Regions from separate parts of the Homo sapiens genome. Here regions 1 and 2 are each linked to region 3. Evidence: fine-mapped expression QTL. A gene starts in region 3. Each other region holds a variant in brackets. All regions are shown on one strand. Distances are from middle to middle.

Region 1 (8,183 bases), 72 kb before region 3:
TGATAGACATTATAGAGACCCAAGGGAAAAACCGCCAAGATTCAGAGACAGCCAAAAACCATGCAAGCAGAGGTGTCTGGCTTCCTGCTTCCTTCTCAACCTTCATTCCCTGCTAACAACTTGGAGAAAGTTCAGTCAGTAGCTCTCATCTCACCACACCACTATTTCTTCAGCACATCCTCCAACTCTGCCTCCCTACAATTTCAGAAACATTAAGGTGAAAGGATGAGGAAACATGTTAGTTTTCTTGAGAACATTCTATGTGCCAGGCATTGTGCTAGGTGCTTCGACATATAACGAAGAGAAGAAGAAATTAAATATAAAAAGGCAAAGTAGTGACTGGAAGTTAAAGCCAACAGCAGACGAATGAGATCACTGGTTTTCAAATTGTTTCACACTAGCTGCAACAGAACCCTCTAGGGCAACTGATAAAATGCCAGTGCCCAGGCCTCAGTCAAATAACTACAAGTCGGTAGACCTTGGATGAGGTCCAAAACTATATAAATATGTGTGTGTGCATGTATACACATGCATGTATAAACATGCACACATATATTTTAAAACAAGAACCCCAGGCCAGGCACAGTGGCTCACACCTGTAATCCCAACACTCTGGGAGGCCGAAGTAGGTGGATTACCTGAGGTCAGAAAGTGGAGACCAGCCTGGCTAACACGGTGAAATCTCATCTCCACTAAAAATACAAAAATTAGCCAGGTGTAGTGGCAGGCACCTGTAATCCCAGCTACTGGGGAGGCTGAGGCAGGAGAATCGCTTGAGCCTGGGAGGCAGAGGTTGCAGTGAACCAAGATCGTGCCATTACACTCCAGCCTGGGTGACAAGAGTGAGAGTCCATCTCAAAAACAAAACAAAACAAAAAACAAGAATCCCAGGCAATTCTAAACACCACACAGGTATTTATGCATAGGTCATCATTAGGACTCCTGAATTAGGGTATCTACTTCTTCAAAACACCATAGTCTTCGCCCAAAGTGGAGGAAAGAGAAAGAGATAACATACTTCAATGAATCTTGATGAACCCAAGACATCATTATTTTACATTTTCCTTAGGAATAGAAAAGAAAAAACATACTGGCAATGAAATCATAATATGCAAGCAACTGTAAGATGCCTCCCAATTTCGGAAATGTTAAAAGGTTTAAAAATTATGCATCTTTGAACAGATGAAATATAGTTAACATGTGTCAAGCTTCCACTAGAGTCTTGGTTAATCTGTGGTTACATGCCTGGCAGGTGGGATGAAATTCCCTGAGTTACATAGCTAGTGAGAGACCGAGCTGATTGTTCCCAACTGCAAAGCCAGAGCCCAGGTACTGCCTTCAGTTACTCCACAGAGCTTATGTGAGTGGTCGAGCTCCAAAACCGGGACCCTTAACCTCTGTCACATACCTCTCCATGGAGCACATGTAAAACATTTAGAATAGTTCGTGGCACAAAGCAAGCTCCAAACAAATGCCATCATTCCTGCCTTCACACAGCTTGCAGTGCAGCGAGAAACCCAGGTGTGATGAGAAGAAAAGCACAGGGTACTATCAGAGAATAGAATAAGGGGACTAAACCAAGCCTTAGGTGGTCAGGCAAGGCTCCTGGACCAATTAACATTTAAGCCAAGACCTGGACAATGTTGAGTAGCACTTAGCATTAAATGAAGAGGTGGAATTGGGAGGGGTTTCTGTAAATCCCAGCCCTGATGTGAAAAGAAGAGCATTATTCTGCTCTCAACCAGAGATAACACTGAATCCAACATTTTTTCCTGGCAGCCCACCCGAGCTTTGTCCATAGGATTCTTATCAGCTTCCAAGGTCGAGAAGGGGCCCACCGGGAGGGGAGGCAAACTTGAATCTCACTGGCTGTCAAGGGAACAGATCAACAGATCTGCTTTCAGGGCAGATGGCAATGGAGCAATAAATTAGCCCTATAAAATACTTTAAATTTAAATGTTTAATCTCTGTTAATTACAATGAGACATTTCTAGAAGATTTTTTTAATAGCAGGCAAACCACAATTACAATGTTGAACTCACTGGAAAGCCCCGCTGCACCTCTCTAACCCCGCATTCCTCCATTTAGGCACTTCAACTTGTTACATTTGGGAATAGCTTTATTATTCAAGGTGATGATGTCAGCCTCCACAGATCTGCAATATGGGGTGGGACAGAAGGAATGCATTACACAGACTCATTGGGAACTGAGCCCAGCAAACACTTGGTGCCTGGAAGAGAACAGAAGGCCACATCAGTTTGCTTTACAGTAGGCTCCTAGCAAACACAAAACCAAATTCAGGCATTTAATTAAGGATACAAAGATTTCCCTCATCCAAGATCACTGAAAACCATTTTTCTTTTCTTTCTTAAAAGAAGGACAAAAGCCATACTGAAAAAGAATGTTTACAGAATATTCAGACTTTTGCTTGAGACTCATTCAGGAGTAAAGAAATAGAAGCTCCAAGTTAGGTAACAGATAAACGCAGAGATGGCAAATATTACAGAATCTAACCTGTGAATACTGAAAGATTAGTGCGAGCTTGCCACTCGTGACCAGGGAAAAAGTTTTACAACAGCATGTTCCACAGGCACGTCTTTTTTAAAAAAAATGTAGCAGCAAACACCTATGAGTCTGCTGAAATTCTCTGGACAACCTCTTTCCTGTTCCCTGCACCTGAATGTCCATCGCCAATTTGTTGGCCAAATCAAGAATGACTTCAGTGAGGCTTTTTTTTTGGTGTCCTTTGAGTAAGGCTAGTTTCTCCCCTCTGTTATCCCCAGCCTGGTCCCTAGAACATACTTCTCTTACTGTAGATAAAGTATTGGGTTGTAATTAATCATTTACACTTCCCTTGCCCCACTAGACTAACTGACCAAGGGCCAAATCCACATCTCATTTACCCAAAGATTCTTGCACCTTACACAGTACTTAGCACAAGTAAGTGTACAATACAGGTTGGGCAAAGTATTAACTGAGCAATGATCTATCCACACTGCTGTCTGCTAAGAGAACTCCAGTCTTTATGGGTTTCTTGAAAGGTAGGGTGAGAGCATACTGAATCACACTCACAGATTATTATAGTATACATCCCAAACTTTGGTCATTTCTAACTTTTTTCTATACCATATAAAATATGTATTTTTCTAGTATTTTTCTTTAAAGTAATTCCCTTTGTTAGTTTTCACCTTGTCCTAAGAAATAACCACAGAAAACCAGATTTGATGTGTTAATTCTATTTTTTTCAAATATACAAAATGTTAAATTACTAAATCAAACACTGTTCATCCTCACACGACCTCCAACCTTCTGGCATATAGTGATAGAGGGGTACATGTAACACACTTGAGGACATCCTGGATTAATAAAATATTCAAGCTGAAAAGGTCACTCGAGGTTACCAAACCCAACTCTTCATAAACAGAGAAGGAAACCACAGCCCAGGAGGACCTTATTTCTTTCTCAACTCATGAAGAAATTAGTGAGAGAATAGACAAAGAATGAAATTACACAGAGAATGGACAAGCATCCAGGGCCTCAAGTTCCCATGTTAGTGCTTTTGCTCTGACAACTGGGACAAATATGAGCAACAGACAAAAGCTGTAACATATAGCAAATATGTTCACGATATTTTAAAAGATACCCTTTTATAAAAACACTGGAAGAAAACAAAACAGGCTCCAGTGGGGTAATAGATATATGATTCCTTCCCTTTCCAAATTTCCTAATAACTTACAATGTGTTCATAATACCCTTTACACTAAAAACACACATACACACACACACACACACACACACACACACACACACACACCCCATGTGATGGGTAACTTAATGTGTTAACTTGGTTAAGTTATGGTGTCTAGTTGTTTGGTCAAATGTGTCTAGATGTTACTCTAAAGGTATTTGTTAACATCTACAACTGGAGGGGAGGAGCCAAGATGGCCGAATAGGAACAGCTCCAGTCTACAGCTCCCAGCGTGAGCGACGCAGAAGACGGGTGATTTCTGCATTTTCATCTGAGGTACCGGGTTCATCTCACTAGGGAGTGCCAGAGAGTGGGCGCAGGTCAGTGGGTGCAGCGCACCGTGCGCGAGCCGAAGCAGGGCGAGGCATTGCCTCACTCGGGAAGTGCAAGGGGTCAGGGAGTTCCCTTTCCTAGTCAAAGAAAGGGGTGACAGACGGCACCTGGAAAATCGGGTCACTCCCACCCACATACTGTGCTTTTCCGACAGACTTAAAAAATGGTGCACCACGAGATTATATCCCGCACCTGGCTTGGAGGGTCCTACGCCCACGGAGTCTCCCTGATTGCTAGCACAGCAGTCTGAGATCAAAGTGCAAGGCGGCAGCCAGGCTGGGGGAGGGGCGCCCGCCATTG[C/T]GCAGGCTTGCTTAGGTAAACGAAGCAGCCAGGAAGCTGGAACTGGGTGGAGCCCACCACAGCTCAAGGAGGCCTGCCTGCCTCTGTAGGCTCCACCTCTGGGGGCAGGGCACAGACAAACAAAAAGACAACAGTAACCTCTGCAGACTGAAATGTCCCTGTCTGACAGCTTTGAAGAGAGCAGTGGTTCTCCCAGCACACAGCTGGAGATCTGAGAACGGGCAGACTGCCACCTCAAGTGGGTCCCTGACCCCTGACCCCCGAGCAGCCTAACTGGGAGGCACCCCCCAAGTAGGGGCAAACTGACACCTCACACAGCCAGGTACTCCTCTGAGACAAAACTTCCAGAGGAAATATCAGACAGCAGCATTCGTGGTTCACGAAAAACCACTGTTCTGCAGACACCGCTGCTGATAACCAGGCAAACAGGGTCTGGAGTGGACCTCTAGCAAACTCCAACAGACCTGCAGCTGAGGGTCCTGTCTGTTAGAAGGAAAACTAACAAACAGAAAGGACATCCACACCAAAAACCCATCTGTATATCTCCATCATCAGAGGCCAAAAGTAGATAAAACCACAAAGATGGGGAAAAAACAGAGCAGAAAAACTGGAAACTCTAAAAAGCAGAGCACCTCTCCTCCTCCAAAGGAACGCAGTTCCTCACCAGCAATGGAACAAAGCTGGACGGAGAATGACTTTGACAAGTTGAGAGAAGAAGGATTCAGACGATCAAACTACGAGCTACAGGAAGAAATTCAAACCAAAGGTAAAGAAGTTAAAAACTTTGAAAAAAATTTAGACGAATGTATAACTAGAATAACCAATACAGAGAAGTGCTTAAAGGAACTGATGGAGCTGAAAGCCAAGGCTCCAGAACTACATGAAGAATGCAGAAGCCTCAGGAGCCGATGCGATCAACTGGAAAAAAGGGTATCAGCAATGGAAGATGAAATGAATGAAATGAAGCGAGAAGGGAAGTTTAGGGAAAAAAGAATAAAAAGAAATGAACAAAACCTCCAAGAAATATGGGACTATGTGAAAAGACCAAATCTACGACTGATTGGTGTACCTGAAAGTGACAGGGAGAATGGAACCAAGCTGGAAAACACTCTGCAGGATATTATCCAGGAGAGCTTCCCCAACCCAGCAAGGCAGGCCAACATTCAGATTCAGGAAACACAGAGAACGCCACAAAGATACTCCTTGAGAAGAGCAACTCCAAGACACATAATTGTCAGATTCACCAAAGTTGAAATGAAGGAAAAAATGTTAAGGGCAGCCAGAGAGCAAGGTCGGGTTACCCACAAAGGGAAGCCCATCAGACTAACAGTGGATCTCTCTGCAGAAACCCTACAAGCCAAAAGAGAGTGGGGGCCAATATTCAACATTCTTAAAGAAAAGAATTTGCAACCCAGAATTTCATATCCAGCCAAATTAAGCTTCATAAGTGAAGGAGAAATAAAATACTTTACAGACAAGCAAATGCTGAGAGATTTTGTCACCAGCAGGCCTGCCCTAAAAGAGCTCCTGAAGGAAGCACTAAACATGGAAAGGAACAACCGGTACCAGCCGCTGCAAAATCATGCCAAAATGTAAAGACCATCAAGACTAGGAAGAAACTACATCAACTAACGAGCAAAATAACCAGCTAACATCATAATGACAGGTTCAAATTCACACATAACAATATTAACTTTAAATGTAAATGGACTAAATGCTCCAATTAAAAGACACAGACTGGCAAATTGGATAAAGAGTCAAGACCCATCAGTGTGTTGTATTCAGGAAACCCATCTCACATGCAGAGACACACATAGGCTTAAAATAAAAGGATGGAGGAAGATCTACCAAGCAAATGGAAAACAAAAAAAGGCAGGGTTTGCAATCCTAGTCTCTGATAAAACAGACTTTAAACCAACAAAGATCAAAAGAGACAAAGAAGGCCATTACATAATGGTAAAGGGATCAATTCAACAAGAAGAGCTAACTATCCTAAATATATATGCACCCAATACAGGAGCACCCAGATTCATAAAGCAAGTCCTGAGTGACCTACAAGGAGACTTAGACCACACATTAATAATGGGAGACTTTAACACCCCACTGTCAACATTAGACAGATCAACGGGACAGAAAGTCAACAAGGATACCCAGGAATGGAAATCAGCTCTGCACCAAGCAGACCTAATAGACATCTACAGAACTCTCCACCCCAAATCAAGAGAATATACATTTTTTTCAGCACCACACCACACCTATTCCAAAACTGAACACATAGTTGGAAGTAAAGCTCTCCTCAGCAAATGTAAAAGAACAGAAATTATAACAAACTGTCTCTCAGACCATAGTGCAATCAAACTAGAACTCAGGATTAAGAATCTCACTCAAAACCGCTCAACTACATGGAAACTGAACAACCTGCTCCTGAATGACTACTGGGTACATAACGAAATGAAGGCAGAAATAAAGATGTTCTTTGAAACCAACGAGAACAAAGACACAACATACCAGAATCTCTGGGACACATTCAAAGCAGTGTGTAGAGGGAAATTTATAGCAGTAAATGCCAACAAGAGAAAGCAAGAAAGATCCAAAATTGACACCCTAACATCACAACTAAAAGAACTAGAAAAGCAAGAGCAAACACATTCAAAAGCTAGCAGAAGGCAAGAAATAACTAAAATCAGAGCAGAACTGAAGGAAATAGAGACACAAAAAACCCTTCAAAAAATTAATGAATCCAGGAGCTGGTTTTTTGAAAGGATCAACAAAATTGATAGACCGCTAGCAAGACTAATAAAGAAAAAAAGAGAGAAGAATCAAACAGATGCAATAAAAAATGATAAAGGGGATATCACCACCGATCCCACAGAAATACAAACTACCATCAGAGAATACTACAAATACGTCTACGCAAATAAACTAGAAAATCTAGAAGAAATGGATAAATTCCTCGACACATACACTCTCCCAAGACTAAACCAGGAAGAAGTTGAATCTCTGAATAGACCAATAACAGGAGCTGAAATTGTGGCAATAATCAATAGCTTACCAACCAAAAAGAGTCCAGGACCAGATGGATTCACAGCCGAATTCTACCAGAGGTACGAGGAGGAACTGGTACCATTCCCTCTGAAACTATTCCAATCAATAGAAAAAGAGGGAATCCTCCCTAACTCATTTTATGAGGCCAGCATCATCCTGATACCAAAGCCGGGCAGAGACACAACAAAAAAAGAGAATTTTAGACCAATATCCTTGATGAACATTGATGCAAAAATCCTCAATAAAATACCGGCAAACCGAATCCAGCAGCACATCAAAAAGCTTATCCACCATGATCAAGTGGGCTTCATCCCTGGGATGCAAGGCTGGTTCAATATATGCAAATCAATAAATGTAATCCAGCATATAAACAGAACCAAAGACAAAAACCACATGGTTATCTCAATAGATGCAGAAAAGGCCTTTGACAAAATTCAACAACCCTTCATGCTAAAAACTCTCAATAAATTAGGTATTGATGGGACGACGTATTTCAAAATAATAAGAGCTATCTATGACAAACCCACAGCCAGTATCATATTGAATGGGCAAAAACTGGAAGCATTCCCTTTGAAAACTGGCACAAGACAGGGATGCCCTCTCTCACCACTCCTATTCAATGTAGTGTTGGAAGTTCTGGCCACGGCAATTAGGCAGGAGAAGGAAATAAAGGGTATTCAATTAGGAAAAGAGGAAGTCAAATTGTCCCTGTTCACAGATGACATGATTGTATCTCTAGAAAACCCCATTGTCTCAG
Region 2 (8,183 bases), 150 kb before region 3:
GGCAAGATTTGCCAATGAATTTCTAAAATTGGGGCTAATAATCAATTATAAATGGAGGATATTAGCCACTCAAAGATTTATCCCACCATAAGAAACAGTTTGGAACTCCTCCCAAGTCCTATTGAAATGGTCTGGGTTATACTCATGAGACTGCAAACATAAATTAATAGATGCTATACTCTGCTGTGTTGTCTTCACTAAATGGTTTGGTCTTTGTGGAGTTGAAGCAGAGGCAATGTGCATGGTTTTCAGTGCCTGGTCCAGAGGAGGTTCTCCATGCCTGCAGGGTAAGTGATCCCTACAGCCTTAGTTGCAACCCTGGCTGAAAATTAGGATAATCTGAAGAGTTTCTTAAAAGGAGCAAATATACCCCAATCTTAAAATATACCCCAACCAAATTAAATCAGAATCTCTGGGTAGGGTGGGGGAAGAGGGAAGGGAGGAGCTGACCCAGGAGCAATGATTATACTTCACAGCCAAGGGTGAGAACCACTGAACTGGGAAGTACCTTCAGATGGTGAGTGGAACTCATAAAACTTGATGTCTTCCTAATACGATTACTCAACTTTTTTTTTGCTCTGGTACCATGATGAACAAGCAACATTTATTTTATTTTCTAGGTTGACATTTTTTATAGGGGCTAAAAGAAGATGATCAGCTAACCCAAGGCATCTGTCTGCTTGCCAGTTATTGTTCTCATTTTAAATCAATAAAAGGGACTTCTCATTTGTCAGTTGTCTTCTTGTTATTCTCAAACAGTCCTGCACAGTCTCTAGATCTGTTTAATTATATATGACTTCGGACACACACACAGCAAAGGGTAAGACATAGATTTCTCATGACCCTGTCAAGGGCTGCCCTTAGGAGAAGCTATGTAACAGCTTTATCTCTTTTACCAAACTTTAAAGGCAGTTATTTTATGTTAAATGGAATAGTTTTTTTTTAAATTATGGCAAACAATTACATACAAACAAGATATGACGGGCAAATTCTTGACTGCCTTAGTATTCCATGCATATGATAACCATCCATCCTGGCTTACACAGGACCAAGGACATTCTTGGAATCTAGGACTTCGAGTTTTAAAAGTGAGGCAGTCCTGGGGATACCTTAGGGAGCTTCTGGGACTCAAAACTTTCAACACAAAATCCATCTGGGATTAGTTGGTCATCCTAGGTATAGCCCTAGTTTCTCAGATGGATCTTTATTTTCTTTTTAAGAGAGGCTTCATTGATCACCTAGTGGTAACTAAAAGGAAACTAGCATATTAGATGAGGAATTGAAGATATTCTCCATCTCACATCTCATCTCAAACAAATACTCTATTACACTCATAACTAACACGTAGCATAGTGTTATCACAGATGAAATCTCAGTATAGGATTAAAAACACTCACAGTTCAGGCATGGGCAATGTAAAAGAGAAAAAGGAAGTCTCCAGGCAGGTCCAATAGCCTATAGAACAAGGAGAGGCCTTGAACCAGGCCAGTCAGCTGGATCCAGTGTATGGGATCAGGAGCCAAGACAAACTTAAAGCCATGTGGCCACAGCTAACATTTGTTGAGTACTTAGCACATGCACTATACTAAGACACTTACGAAGACTATATGATTTAACCACAACTCTATGAAATAAATATAATTACTATATTCATTTTATTACACTACATAATTATATGTAGTTAGTATATTCATTTTACATAGGAGAAAACTCAAAGCTGTTTAGGGCTTTTATTCACCCTTATTCACTTCCTCCATGTCCAGCCTATAGTAGGCATACCATAAATAACACAAAAGTATTAACTACAAAAAACACCCAAGTGGGGTAAGTATAAATATCTTAAAAGACAATTTAATTAAAATCTTTTGCTTTTTCAGGTATCTTTACAAAATGGCTGACATCTATTTAAGCAGGTCTGTAACCGACCATCCTTTACAAATTACTTAAAGATAAGACGAGAGAAGGATTCATATTAATATTATTAGCCTAACACTCAAGTAAAGTGAAACTACAAATGATGTGTTCTGGCTAGCAGTAATAGGGAGAGAGAGAAAAAAAAATACGTTGTGTGTTAAGAAGGAAAATTAAACCGAAAATTAGATTCCCTGCCCACAAATTTTGACAAATCTTAAAGGAAATTAACCACTTTTCACTTGCTTTGCTGATCACAGAAAGCCTCTGACTCCACTTGACATAAGCAAATAAAGATGGTAACACTTGACATGTAATTCTTGGCTCACTTAATTGGATTGCTTCACAAACCATTTTTGGTAATCAATGATTACTAGTAGTAGTCACAAAAGAGGATAACAGGCAGCTGGGAACAGAAAATGACAGGACTGCATTTTCTTGAGTATCTATTCAGAGGCAGTGGTCCAGCCATGAAATGATTCTGCCTCCTGCCTGAACTTCTTGTTTATACAACTACTTCTGGACCCCCTTGGACCCTCATGACCAATTATAGTTTGGGGATGCTAAAGTCAAACTGCCTGGGTTCAAATCCCAGCTTGACACCTACATAACTCAGAACAAATCTTCTTAGTATGCCTCTGTTACCTTTGTAAAATGGGAACAATTGTGCTATCTCATAGGATTGTTGAAGAACTAAGTGATATAATCCACGTACACTGCTTGGATTGATGCCTCCCACATAGAAAATTTTACATGAATGTTTATTTTTATTATTGCTTTTGTTTTATATTTCAAAAGCTGTGCTACCTCTACTTTAAAGTTAAGCCCTCTGATCCAGATTCTGTTAGAAAAGTCATCTTTTGTGCACCCCTGCAGAACATGTGGCCATGATCTTTGCCACAACGGAAACTCAGCATAAAATACACAATAGCAAGATGTCTGGACAGCAGTCCTTTACTTTACAAGCTTGTTAGATATCGACTCTAGGAAAGCCTTGGGCTTGGCACCTCCTAATCAATTTGGAGACTGGCACAGGTCAAACGTGCTAGTTAGTAAGGATCTGTTTGAATCCTGCTCTGTCAATTATGGTCTAAGACAAAAATGCGGAGTAGATGGTACCCAGTATGTTGATGACAGGGCCAATCAATTTGTGACTTAGGGTGGCTCTTTAGATTACACATTGAAATCGCCAAGACACTCTGTCAATTCAAGAGCCTAAAAGGCTTTGACAAGATCAAAAGACTCATGGCATTATGGACCACGAGTGCATAAAGATGGGGACAATGTGGCACCATGCCACAGATCATTTTATCCATCCAATGGGAGATTGAAATCTGCTACAAGACACCACCTCTTTTTCCTTCAGTAATCTCATTCGTGCAAACCACAAATCTTACTTTGTGGCACGTAACAAGATAGTCTGTCAACAGAACAAATGTGGAAATCAGTGAACTGTAACACACAGCAGAGTACCCTAGCACAAGAAGTATATATGCAGATACACATCCCAGGCCCACTCCTAACAATATGAACAACATAAATGGTGGAAAAACAGCTGTGGCAAGCTGGCCAAAAAGTGTATCATCATAATCTTTGGCAGATTCACCAGGTGGTAACATGAACTAGCAAGGAGAGATGGGTTTTTTTGCCAACTGCCTCTGTAAACCAACCAGTTTTCTTACGTTCACAAAAAACCCACTCCTCTTGGCAGCAGCATCCTCTCCAAAAACGCCAGTGTCTTTCAACTACCCTGCTATTATTGCCATTGGCTCAGAAATGCCTCTAGTAAATAACCCAATGCAAAGAGAGAGCCAGTGAGGCACACGGTTCTTCAGAGAGCTCTGTTGATATGAAGCAATGTTCTATTTTTAATATGAAAGTTTTCAGTGAGCTGGGAGTTGATCTTATAACCTGATTGTCCCTTTCACTCTTTTCTCTCCTTGACTCAAGCACCTGGCAGAATGCTGGGCACACAGCTGTTCGAATGAGTTCAA[T/C]TGAAATGTGGCTTCCTTGTGGCAACATACTAGATTTTTCACCTCTGTTACAACTTGATCACTGACCTTTTTATGAACACTATGCCCTGCTAGAGGAATATGCACAACTTTTGGTAGTTTATCCATGGGTGTATTAATTCTTGTCACTGTGCAGAGAAGGGAGGTACAAAAAGCAATTGCCAAGCTAAGGAGATATAGCACGGTAGCTTATTTTGCTGATGACTAACGAGATGCAAAGGCAAAGTTTTAATCCAAAAGTATTAAGTTGCAGTGAGAGGCTGCTGCTTCATCATATCATATAGGATTCTGCTGGATTTTACTCCTTTCCCATCACATTCATCTCCTTTCTCTGCCTTGGTCCGCACTATTCTTTCTGCCTGGAAGGCAGCCCAGCACATTTCTGCCTGTCCACTAGCAGGTCAAGGTTCAGTCTTCCGCCCTTCCTCCACACAGCAGCCAGAAGTCCCCTTGTCATCTCTCACCTTTTAAAACTACCCATGCCATTCAGATGCCCCTTAGCCTTTACTACCTTGTTGTGTACTTTTTTTGTGGACCTATCTTATCCATGGAAGAGGACAAAATGCTGCAGAGTGGCTACCATAGCTCTATGCTGCAGGATTTTCAGCAGAACTGTGAGGTAAGTGTTATTTCATCCATTTCATAAATGGAGTTCTTGGAGAGTCTATTTGCCTAGCCTGTCACATGATTGGTTCAGTTTCCTTTGCAGAGTTAGGCAAAAACAATGAAAATTTAAGCACACCTATCTTTAACCTTCCTATCTAGGGATCTAGCCCACAAGTATACACATTTATACAGATAAGCATGTAATATATTATATATATATTTTTATATAATATATAATATATATAATATATTATATATATTATATTATTATATATAATATATTATATATGTATTTTTTTTGAGGCAGAGTCTCGCTCTGTCACCCAGGCTAGAGTGCAGTGGCATGATCTCAGCTCACTACAACCTCTGCCTCCCAAGTTCAAGTGATTCTCCTGCCTCAGCCTCCCGAGTAGCTGGGATTATAGGCGCGTGCCACCACGCCTGGCTATTTTTTGTATTTTTAGTAGAGACAGGGCTTCGCCATGTTGGCCAGACTGGACTCAATCTCCTGAACTCAGGTGATCCATCTGCCTCAGCCTCCCAAAGTGCTGGGACTACAGGCGTGAGCCACCATGCCCAGCCTGTACTATAATTTTTATGTAGTTATTTCAACATTAATTGCAATGAAATTACATTCAAAAGAAGCCACATGTCCAGTGACAGAGAAGTGTCTTAATAAATTATGACATGGATACCATAATTTTATATATACACACGCACATACATATATATGTATATAATGGAATACTCCTCATCTTTTAGAGAGTAAGACAGAAAGAGAAAACTACACATGAATATTTCTCAGTGCTGAGAAGAGTAAATACTTGTTGAATGAATGAATAGATCACCAAGATATAGTGTGAGAAAAGCAAATCTCTAAACACTATTATATGACTCCACTTATGCTATAAAGCTATTTGCACACTCACATACACACAGTGTGTTGTCACTCAATATGTTATCTTTTTTTTTTTTTTAAAAAAAAAGGAGGTTTATGTTCATGTATTACTTAGGTAATAAAAAAATAACATGGAAAGCAATAGATAACCTGGTGTGGGTGGCTTAGGTATTAGGTTGTGAAGTAGAAGGTGGACTAAACTTAGCTGCTTTGGAAGCCCCTTCTTTTTCACTTGTACTTTCCTCTGTTTTTATAGTGGAAAGAGCAGACCTGCAGTTGAAAGACTCTTGTTCTGGCTCTGTCAACACTGACCCGAATGACTTTAGCTGAGTCGCCCAACCTGCAGAAGGCTTGTCACTTATTCTTTAGCCAGAGAATAGAAATAATGTCTATCTTCCAAGGTTAACTCTGAGAACAAGTAAGCTGATGCATGTAATAGCTCCTGATCAACTATAAAGCACTATCCAAATGCAGTAGGGTATATTATTTATCATTGTGATTATTACTCCCATAAAATGCTAACACAGTGTCTCACATAGATAAGGCACATAATATAAATTAGGGAAGTGAATGAACATATTAGAATATGTGAATTCACTCTTCTGTATTCATTCAGCATTTGCTCCCTCTAAAGAGTTCTTGTAGTCTTTTAGGGGTATCTTCTCAGGAAAAATTAAAGAGATCTGAATCCTCTATTTCATCTGACATAAGACAGTAATGATTTTAAGACTTGGATTAATTTTATGTACAACTAAGACAGAAAAAGAATGATGCTAAATAAACTATGTCACACAATGTTGCCTGATTTTGAAAATGTGAAAGAATATGTGCATTTAAAAATCTGTGAAATACAGTATTTAAATGAAAGGCTTCAGGCAAATTAGCTGATCAATTATACATTATGTCTCTCAAATGAAATTGCTAATTTAATAATAAAGCATGATTTTCTCATACCAATGGTGTTTTACAGTGCCTTTTCCCCTTTGGATATGCTGGTCACAGCATTTTTTTTTTCATGTTTTAAAAATTATAGAGAATAGATAATTACTAGTGAATGCTGACCTTTTCCTTATTATGAGTAATTGTGCTATTAAAAGCATCATTTGGACCTTAATTTGATATACAAATTATTCAATTACCTAGTCTGCAGTTGTAAGGACTTTTAGCAGTCACCATTATTTGGTGAGGGGGAAGGTTAGCATGAAGCAATTTCATCGTGTACTCCATTGCAAAAATTTTAGTTGTACCAAAACAGTATTAAAGTAGTGGGTAAGCCAATAACGCCATCGAAATGTTTGATGGCACCAAATTATAACCAATGTCACCACTGAAAACATTAGCAGGAGAATAGGCCAAAGAAACTTGACAAAAATCCCTTTGCAAAGCCAAAATTAGAGAATAGGCCAAAGAAACTTGGTAAAAATCCCTTTGCAAAGCCAAAATTAAAGCATGTTGTTAAAAAAGAAAACTACAGTTAAGCAAAAATAACTCATCTTTAGGATGTTTGGGTGTAGTGTCCATGAAACTTGCTCTTGGTCTTAGGTATTTATTTACTGTTTTTGTTTTGGTGGTGGTGATGGCAATAGTAATGGCAGTAGTGGTGGTGACCGTGGTGGTGATGGTGATGACAATGGAGATCCCGGTACCTGATACAGTCCACAAAGTAGGGTGGTAGATCTACCTAAAGAAAATCTACTGCCTAAAGGCAGTGGGATATAGAAAAAACAAAACAAAACTGAGTTTGAATCCCAGTTTCATTACTTACTAGCTGTAGTGTCATTGGAAAATTACTGCTTCAATTTCCTCATCTGTAAAAAGTACACAATAGGCCGGGCGCGGTGGCTCACGCCTGTAATCCCAGCACTTTGGGAGGCCGAGGCGGGTGAATCACGAGGTCAGGAGATCGAGACCATCCTGGCTAACACGGTGAAACCCTGTCTCCACTAAAAATACAAAAAATTAGCCGGGCGTGGTGGTGGGTGCCCGTAGCCCCAGCTATTCAGGAGGCTGAGGCAGGAGTATGGCGTGAACCCGGGAGGCGGAGCTTGCAGTGAGCCGAGATTGTGCCACTGCACTCCAGCCCGGGTGACAGAGCGAGACTCCATCTAAAAAAAAAAAAAAAGAGTACAAGTACATAATAATGCCAAGCACCTTTCAGACTGTTGTCAGGTGTGGTAATGGGTCTCGAAAGCCTGTCACACAGCTGAGTTTCAATAAGTATAAAGAGGCTTGGTGCAGTGGCTCATGCCTCTAAACCCTTGGCTTTGGGAGGCTGAGGCAGGAGGACTGCTTGAGTCCAAAACAAGCCTGGGCAACACAGCAAGACCTCATCTCTAAAAAGAAAAAAATAGCCGGGCATGGCAGCCTGCGCCTGTATTCCCAGCTACTTGGGAGGCTGAGGTGGGAGGATCCCTTTACCCCAGGAGTTTGAGGATATAGTGAGTGATGATCGCACCACTGCACTCCAGCCTGGGCAACAGAATGAGGCCCTTTCTATAATAAATGTTAAAAAAATTAAAAAGGAAGAAGAGCAGGAGGGATTCTACTTATTCAGTGGTTTTCCACTGGAATATCCTAATAGAAGAAAGTGGCTGGTTACAGTAAAAAAGCCTGGTATACATTGCTGACTCAGAATAGAAGGTAATTTGAAAAATTCCACAAATGCCAATCTTATCCACAGCTATTGCCTTGCTGTAGATTTTGACAGGAAAAAAAAAAAGGCTTAAAATTGTCTCAAAATGGTCTGTCCTAGGAGG
Region 3 (8,183 bases):
AGGTGGAACAGTTTCATCCCAAAACCATCCCCCATGGAAAAACTGTCTTCCATGAATCTGATCCCTGGTGCCAAAAAGGTTAAGGACCACTAGCATAGAGGGAGGCATCCCTATGACGGGTAAGTTCACTGCTGCATACAATATTAGCAAGCCCACTTACCCTCCAACCCAAAGTCAGAAAAAAATAACCCACTATAAGCTTGTGATAAAAATGATGTTTTTATCTCCCATGTGACTCCTTTTACTCTCTGTGATGCAGTTCTGAGTTCAAGTTGGGTACAAAGTCATCATTTATGGGGCTGCAAAGCCCAGTGTTTACCGTGACTGCTTCTATTTGTCACAAACGTTTGACGCTATCTCATTTCCCATTTTCCCAGTCACCGTTATTATTACTTAGCCTTACAATATTTTGGTGATGTGTAGTTTCTTCACTCTTCTACAGGAGAAAAAACATAGAACCTGAGCACTGAATGACTTATCAGAAGATATTTGGTAAGCTACCATGTTCATTTATGATGGAAAATTCAGATCCCTTAATATAGATGTCATTAAGAGCACACAGTCTTGCATTTGACATGTTTTTCTTGGGGAGAGAGGTGAGTGCTGAATATTGGAAATCATTTTTCTGCCACATGAGAGGTGCTATTCTGTTAGACCTGGAATAGAAATTACCATGTACAATGTCCATCCTCCCTATTTTTTTCATAAATATCTGAGGACAAAGCAAGAAAAGGAATTGGGGATGAGGGGTAAAAAAAAAATCCTTCTCTAGCTCTGGAGACTCGTGCATTTATATGTCATTCATGAAACAATGACTGTGGGCCTCCTAAGTGCCAGGCGCCATCCCTGGAATACAGAGATGAATACAAAGATGAATACGACACTGTCCCCAATGAATCCACATTTTTCTTCTCCCTGAATAATATTGCAACCCATTTCTGTTAGAAAACATCAATAGGTTTAACCGTCTATACACAGTCTGTCCATAGAGAATGGATTAGTTTGGGGTCCCTGCTACCTCCTTCCAAGAGGTCCTAGTCCCCAGTCCTGCTAAATTATTTCACAAGACATTGTTTTTGTTTTTTTTTTTTTTAAAAAAAGGCAATGTATGCCAGTATAATCCTAATCCAAATGCAGACCATAAGGTCGTACCCTGTTCTGTGGCGGGAAAGCATACCTGTAAGCTGCCCATAAATGCAAAGCATGGGTCACAAGCAGACTAGGAGACATAAATAGGATGTTGCAAATAAACTAAGAAGAAAACATAACACAGGGTAGTTACAAAACAATAAACAAAGGGCACCTCTTTTTCATCTTAAACACACGGCTGCAGGTTCAGCAAAGTGAATGAGTGAACTACTTGCTAGTAACACTTTTACAAATTCAAGTTTACTTAAGAAAAAGTTACACATAGTAAAAAACCTTCTAATTTGTTACTAATTAGAAAAACTGGCTGGCATGAATAAGTGAAAATTCAGGATATAAAACACATGCCAAATAGTATAGCTTTTCCTAAGAGAAGGGATGAGAGTACAAGTGATATTTACTTAGGATGCAGGTTCCAGACACCCTTCTAGAAGCCCTCTCCTTTATTTAATCCTCACAATGAGCAGGGCACGGTGGCTCACTCCTGTAATCCCAGCACTTTGGGAGGCCGAGGCGGGCGGATCACGAGGTTAGGAGATGGAGACCATCCTGGCTAACATGGTGAAACTCTGTCTCTACTAAAAGTACAAAAAAATCAGCCGGGCGTGGTAGCAGGCACCTGTAGCCCAGCTACTCGGGAGGCTGAGGCAGGAAAATGGCGTGAACCCGGGAGGCGGAGCTTGCAGTGAGCCGAGATCGCGCCACTGCATTCCAGCCTGGGCGACAGAGCAAGACTCCGTCTCAAAAAAAAAAAAAAAAATCCTCACAATGTTCCCAGGAGGAAAGCAGTAGTGAGCCCATTTTTTCCAGATGTGGAGACTAAAGCTTAGAATGTTAAGCAATTCGAACTGTATTTTCTATTCCAGTTCCTCTGGCAAAACTCCTTATTCTCTGAAGCAGCATTTCTCAATAAGTTGGGTAAACTGATCATTACTTGGCCATGGCTTGGCCTCGTTATACGGGATGGCCATGCGCTGCAGGACATTTATTATCTGTGGCCATGGGCACAAAATACCAACAGCAGCCCCCAGCAGCAGTTCCTACATATCCCAAATGTGTCCAGGGACAATGTCACCCAGCAGTAGAGGTAAACTGTTCTAAAAGATTTTTTGGGCATCAAGACAAAAGACTGAAGAGAAGGGCACTTCGAGGTGGGCAGATCACGAGGTCAGGAGATCGAGACCATCCTGGCTAACATGGTGAAACTCCGTCTCTACTAAAAATACCAAAAAAATTAGCCAGGCATGGTGGCGGGTGCCTATAGTCCCAGCTACTTGGGAGGCTGAGGCAGGAGAATGGCGTGAACCTGGGAGGCGGAGCTTGCAGTGAGCTGAGACCGCGCCACTGTACTCTAGCCTGGGCGACAGAGCAAGACTCTGTCTCAAAAAAAAAAAAAAAAAAATCTCCCATCCTCAAATCTGTCAGAAATCCCTTATTGTATCACATTTAGGCTTCCAAGAAAGCCCCATGTACCCTTATAGAACCAGTTACAAAACCTCCATGAATATATTTGCCATGCAATTCATGAGCATTGAGTACCTATTATGGGCAAAGTACTGTGCTATGAGCTAGGAATATAAAGTCCAAGTCTAACCCCCAAGGGGGTTAGAGTCTAGTAAGAGGCAGATTAAGTATGATAAGTATTAAGATAAATGTGAGCAGGAGGCACTTCCCATAGACTGGAAAGAGTGCTGAGAAGGCAGAAGAAAAAGGAGGGCTGGGACAGTTTCCCAGAGGAAGTGACATTTTCCCAAAGGCTTGAAAGACCAAGTAGGAGTAACCAGGAAGGGACTGGTCCAGGCTGATATCTTTGCAAAGACCAAAGATAGGAATCATATTTGAAGTTAAAGTTTAAAATACTTCCTTCATTCTTTGAGACCTCATTGTGATTCAAACTCAGGATCTCCTGTTTACTAGACAGGTACTTTAACCAAGTCACTAGAAAATAAACTCTCCATAGTCCACATGTACTTCCTTCCTAAGTTCTTGTTTTTGTAAAGTCTGGCTTCACTGGTGTAATCACCCATCACGCAAGAAATAAGACAAATTTATACTTCTTACAGGGAACAAGAAATTGTTTTCGAGAACAGTGTGGACTAGCAACAAAGAGGAGTGTCCCTGTCTTGGGGACACAGGAGTGGTGAAGACGAGAGATCATAATCAGTGTCACCTGATGGGTGACATAGAACGGACACTTAAGGAGTAGGTCAACATATCCTTGGTCTCAAGCTCAAGATGAACTTTATCTCGGCTTTTGTTTTGTTCTTTGGCATCTGAAGTCTTGACTATCAAGCATAACGATGCAAAAAAAAAAAAAAAAAAAAAAAAAAGATTCTCACCCTACTGGTACATTTGCACAGAAAAGAAAACCTAGAAAAATCTTGATTGTAAGAGAGAGAGAGGATTTCATTTTTGTTAATAAAGTTAGGAAAGCTGGAAGTGGCTGGCTGTGGATCTCTGAACCTGAGATAGCCCAAAGGCAAGAGTTTCCCGAGTTTATGGGTGCTGAGTATAGGAGCTGGGTTGTTGCTACTTCAGGTTGTTAAGACAGTCGTTATAAGGGGAGCAAGAGTCAGATTAGTTCAATTTCTTTCTCCTGGGGCAGGGAGGAGAGGGAGCAGCAAGCCAGCCTCGTGGCCTTCTCGTCTCTAGCCTACAAGGAATAGGCTGATTTCCCCTTGGCAAGGCGCCTGAAGCAGCTGGCAGGCAAGCCCTCCTCTTCCTACTTCAGTACGCCCTCTGACCTGACTGCACTCAGAAACCAAAATTCTGCAGGTGAATGTAGGCTCCCATTTCGTCCCACAATCATTTCATCATTCAGGCACAGCTTGACCTCTAATGTGACATCACAAACCCTTCCGGTCCACAGTTTTTTTTTCTTCTTCAGAAACTACCTAAACAAGGAAGTTTGTGTTCCAAGGTAAGATAACCTGAAATGAAAAACTCAGGATCCCTCACGAACAGCCTGACCCTGCTTTCAACCAGGAAGTTCAAGGGAGGCAGGACTTTACGGTCAAAACTGCAAAGCCGAAGCTCAAGACTGTAAGAAGAAAGTGATCTTCAAAGAAAAGGATTCACCCAAATCGAAGAGGTTGTTGCACTTCTTTTCCCTGGCTGATTACATTTCATGTCTGTAAACTTTGCTAAGCCCGGGGCGCTGGCTGTATAAGCAGAGACAGGTGTAGGGACACCTCTACCCTCTGGGTACATCTGCGGCCGCCGCTGCTGGGTGCATAGGACGAAGGGCCCTCGACCCAATCCCAGTCCAAGCTTCCGGATGACGCACCTGGGCTGGGGACCTCTCCCACGTGAGGGGGGCCAACCAAGCATCCCCAGCCCCGGGGCCACCCAGCCTGCTCCGGAGGGAGGGGGCAGGGAAAAAGGGCATCTCGGGGCCAAAACCTCATGCCGGATCCTCCGGCTTTCCCCCCATTTCCAGGATATCGTTTCGCATCAGGGACACTCGTCTCCACACCTCCTACCTCAAAGTCCTACGCACCTACCCTTCACGTCTCTCCAAAGCAACTGAATTAAAGCGCCTACTGGCCTTGGCGGCGCAGGTGAGTGCCAAGAGGTGGAGGAGGAAGGGGCCCGCTCTCCGCCACCCCCTTTCCTCGCCTCCCCACGATCGCCAAGCTTCATCGGGGATGTGTGCCTTGGGGTGCGCGGGTTAAGAGGGAGCTTAAAAATGCCCCAAGCGTCCCTTACCTTCCACAGCCATTCTCTCAGAGCTTCCCTAACGCATGCATAATTTTCTTGGCCGAGGTACTCCTCCTGCCCCGCGCTCCCCCCTTCCTCTCGCTTTCGCCTAAATATTCTGCGCTTATCTGCTCCAGGACCAACCTGCCGCGGTCACGCAAAGCGAGGCAGCCGGCTCCCGGCTCGGCGCGCGCAGGGCGTCCTGGGAAGTGTAGTTCCCTCCCTTCGCTCGGACTGGGGAGAGCACCCCGACTCCTCCGCGGAGTGCCGCCTGGCCCCGACACTTGGAGAGCAACTCCAGCTTCAGCTGGCCAGGCCGAGCAATCTCTCCTGGGGAAGTTGTGAGGGGACCAGGGATGCCTGGTTGTGGCGGGGCGGGGGGGGAGGGGGGGGGGGTTCCCGGGAAGCGGTCTGGACTACATCTCCCAGGAGGCCGTGCGCTGAGATAGGTTCGCTGCTAAGAGTAGGGACCCGTGATTGAGCCCTTCCCTGTCCATTACAAGGGGTTTGGCACCTAGCAGGTGTGGTGAGGTGGGCAGGTGACGGTCAGCTGTGTGATGAGCTCCTGCGAGCTCGTCCGTGGGCCTCTGCCGCCGGTACCGCCCCGCCCCCTGGCCTCCTGAACCACCATTTAGTAGGGAGAGCAGGACCACTGTCCTCCTGTGTGGTTCTCCACCTGGGCCAGAGAACGCTGCCCAGGGTGAGGTTGAAACTTGTTCCTTCGCACCCTGAGATGTATGGGTTTTGTGGGGGAATTCCGACGGTTGATACAGTTGTCTTATCCTACAGGGTGGTTCAGGTGGCTAAATACTTGGCATGGGGGTGTAGGGGAGGAGGAGTGGCTTAAACCCCAATAGGCAACGTCCCCAAGGGGTTGTTAGGAACAAAGTCTGGGAGCCAGGATTGCACCGGAGGAGGTCAGATGAAAGCCTGTCTGGCTTCCAGGATAGGAGGCTTTCAATTTGCCTAGACTTGGAGCCTGTTGACAGCCTGTGATAGGGCCTAATAATTAACAGTGCCTGAGAATCAGGTTCCTTCAACTTCTGAACCTATGTCCTAGCTGTAGGTGCTGGGGATGCTATAAGCAGACATGATAATGGGAATCACGTGGATAGCAATACAATTCGACAGCTCGTAAAAATTAAGTTTCTAAACATTTTTTCCTGCGTGTGAAAATACGGATACAGTTGTGGCTGGAAGGGGTAAGGGAATAGCCTCGGGAATAAATCTGGCTCAAGACTGGATTGACTTTTAAAGGCCTTCAGTTTACAAATGTATTTGGTACCACATCCACCCAGTCACTCATATATAATGTTAATCTCTGTAAAATGAGGAAGTACAAAAATCGGATTCTTCCCATGATGACTACTTAGACATTTTTGTGTGTCTTGGTCATCAGCAAAAAAAAAAAAATGTTTTTCAAAACAATTTCGTTTCTCAGTGTATACATGCACACCTGTTGTTCTGGTCACTAATTACATGCTTAGTTCCCCTACTGGGTAATATATAATAATAATATGTGTATAGGTACTTTAAAAAATACCTGCGTGTAACCATTAAATGCTCTTGTTGATACTTTAATTCTGAGTCCATGGAGCTGTGTACAAGTCAAACCTAAGCCTCTCTTTTAGGTACAGTAGAGAGAGACCCATTCAGTGAGACATAATTTCCATGGGAAAAAGAATTTTCCGACCTAATACACAGCCAAGCATTCTAAACTCTGGAAAGAACTGAAATCCAGGTGCTTCACTACTTTATGTATATAAAATCACCAAAGTGTTAAGTATTTTCTGAGATTGAATGAATGTGAAAGAAAGCCATAGGACAGGTAGTATCAATGGTTCTCAACCTTGGCTGTGCATCAGCCTTCTACAAATATATATTCCTAAGCTTTTATCTTAGTCTCACAGAATCAGAGCTTATGGGGGTTTGGGTAGAGGCACTCAGGTTTTAAAAACCCACAGGTGATTCCAGTCTTCATTGAGGGTGAAAACCATTGGTCTGGTTCCAAGCTTTTAAATATCTGGGTGATATAAAAATATAAAAGTCATTGAAATCTGTGGTTAATTTTAAAACTTCATCTTAGCTCATCTTTAATATTTTTCCCAGTGATGTGCATTCTAGACGAGTTTTATTTTTAGTATAAATAAAATGTGAAGGAGATGTTAGTTTCTACCATATGAAATAGCCAATGTTTGACCATTTTTAAAACCTACAAATAGAACAATTTCATGTGGTTCTGCCTAATAAGGGATAAACAATAGTTGCGCAGAGGTTTTCAATTCTGGCTGAACATTAGAATCACCTGGGAAGTACTAAAAAAAAATTACATTTATCTCTAGAATGTTTGAAAGATAAAGACACAAAATACCAACCGTTGGCAAGATTGTGAAGCAATAAAGATTTATATATTGCTGGTGGTGTGCAAATTCACAAAACCACTTTGGAAAACCATCTGAAATATTCAGCTGAATATATGCTTATCCTGTGACCCAGAAGTTCTACTCCTAGGTTTACACCAAACAAATATGCATACAGATGTTCTCCAAAAGACATGTGCAAGAATGTTTGTGGCTGCATTATTTTAATGTTCCCAAATGGAAAACAACTCAAATATTTATCAACACAGATTGGAGAGATGAACTGTGGTATAACCAAATAATTCCATATAGCAGGGGTCAACAAACTAAGACCAATGAGCCAAATATGGCTCACCATTTATTTCTTATAACTCACCAGCTAGGTGTGATTTTTACATTTTTAAATGGTTGGAAAAAAAACAAAAAAAGTATAATTTGCAAAGCCTGGAAATTATAAAGACATACTTACATAATATCCTCAATTTTGCCTCTTGTCCTACAAAGCCTCAAATATTTCCTACCTGATCCTTTGCAGAAAAAAAGCTTTCCAAACCCTCCTATAAAGTAATGCAAATGAAGGAATTACAATTGTATACAACAACATGATGAGCCACATGTATTAATCGATTGCTGTTAACAAATTATCCCAATATTTAGTGGTTTACAACAATACCCATGTATTACTTCAGTTTCTGTGGCTCAGTAATTTGGGCACAGCTTAGCTTCTGCTTTAGTATCTTTCACAGACTGCAATCATGACTTATTTTTGGTCTTTTTTATCAGCAGCCAAGTACAGTTCCTAACAGATATACCCAATTTTAGCAAGGGGCAAAGTCCAGACCTCATCCCATACCTCTCATAAGCCAAATTCTGTGTTCATTATGATGCTATTGTTTGTTCCTTATAGTATATAAGCACTTCGAGTGCTGGAACTGAGTCTTATGCTTCATATCTTCCAGATTCTTGGTCATAATTGTG

The links. PIP is the estimated chance that this variant, and not a neighbour inherited with it, causes the effect.
Region 1: its variant is the best candidate, but not a certain one, in a credible set for the expression of SAMD12 in whole blood (TOPMed, PIP 0.55).
Region 2: its variant is the best candidate, but not a certain one, in a credible set for the expression of SAMD12 in whole blood (TOPMed, PIP 0.65).

The regions. Positions count from the first base shown.
Region 1 is chr8:118,544,611-118,552,793 of GRCh38, forward strand. The region is part of intron 2 of SAMD12 (sterile alpha motif domain containing 12); the gene reads right to left. Among named protein-coding and RNA genes, the nearest start is that of SAMD12-AS1, 72 kb to the right of the region's middle. The variant C/T (reference allele first, on the strand shown) is at 4,382.
Region 2 is chr8:118,464,752-118,472,934 of GRCh38, forward strand. The region is part of intron 2 of SAMD12 (sterile alpha motif domain containing 12); the gene reads right to left. Among named protein-coding and RNA genes, the nearest start is that of SAMD12-AS1, 150 kb to the right of the region's middle. The variant T/C (reference allele first, on the strand shown) is at 3,906.
Region 3 is chr8:118,616,950-118,625,132 of GRCh38, forward strand. It overlaps SAMD12 (sterile alpha motif domain containing 12), which reads right to left and starts at 5,014. Exons shown (of 4, transcript NM_207506.3): 1 at 4,855-5,014. The coding sequence starts at 4,867. It overlaps SAMD12-AS1 (SAMD12 antisense RNA 1), which reads left to right and starts at 4,052. Exons shown (of 5, transcript NR_038210.1): 1 at 4,052-4,237; 2 at 4,586-4,706. RefSeq lists enhancers at 4,007-4,056, 4,087-4,296, 4,907-5,106 and a silencer at 5,207-5,356.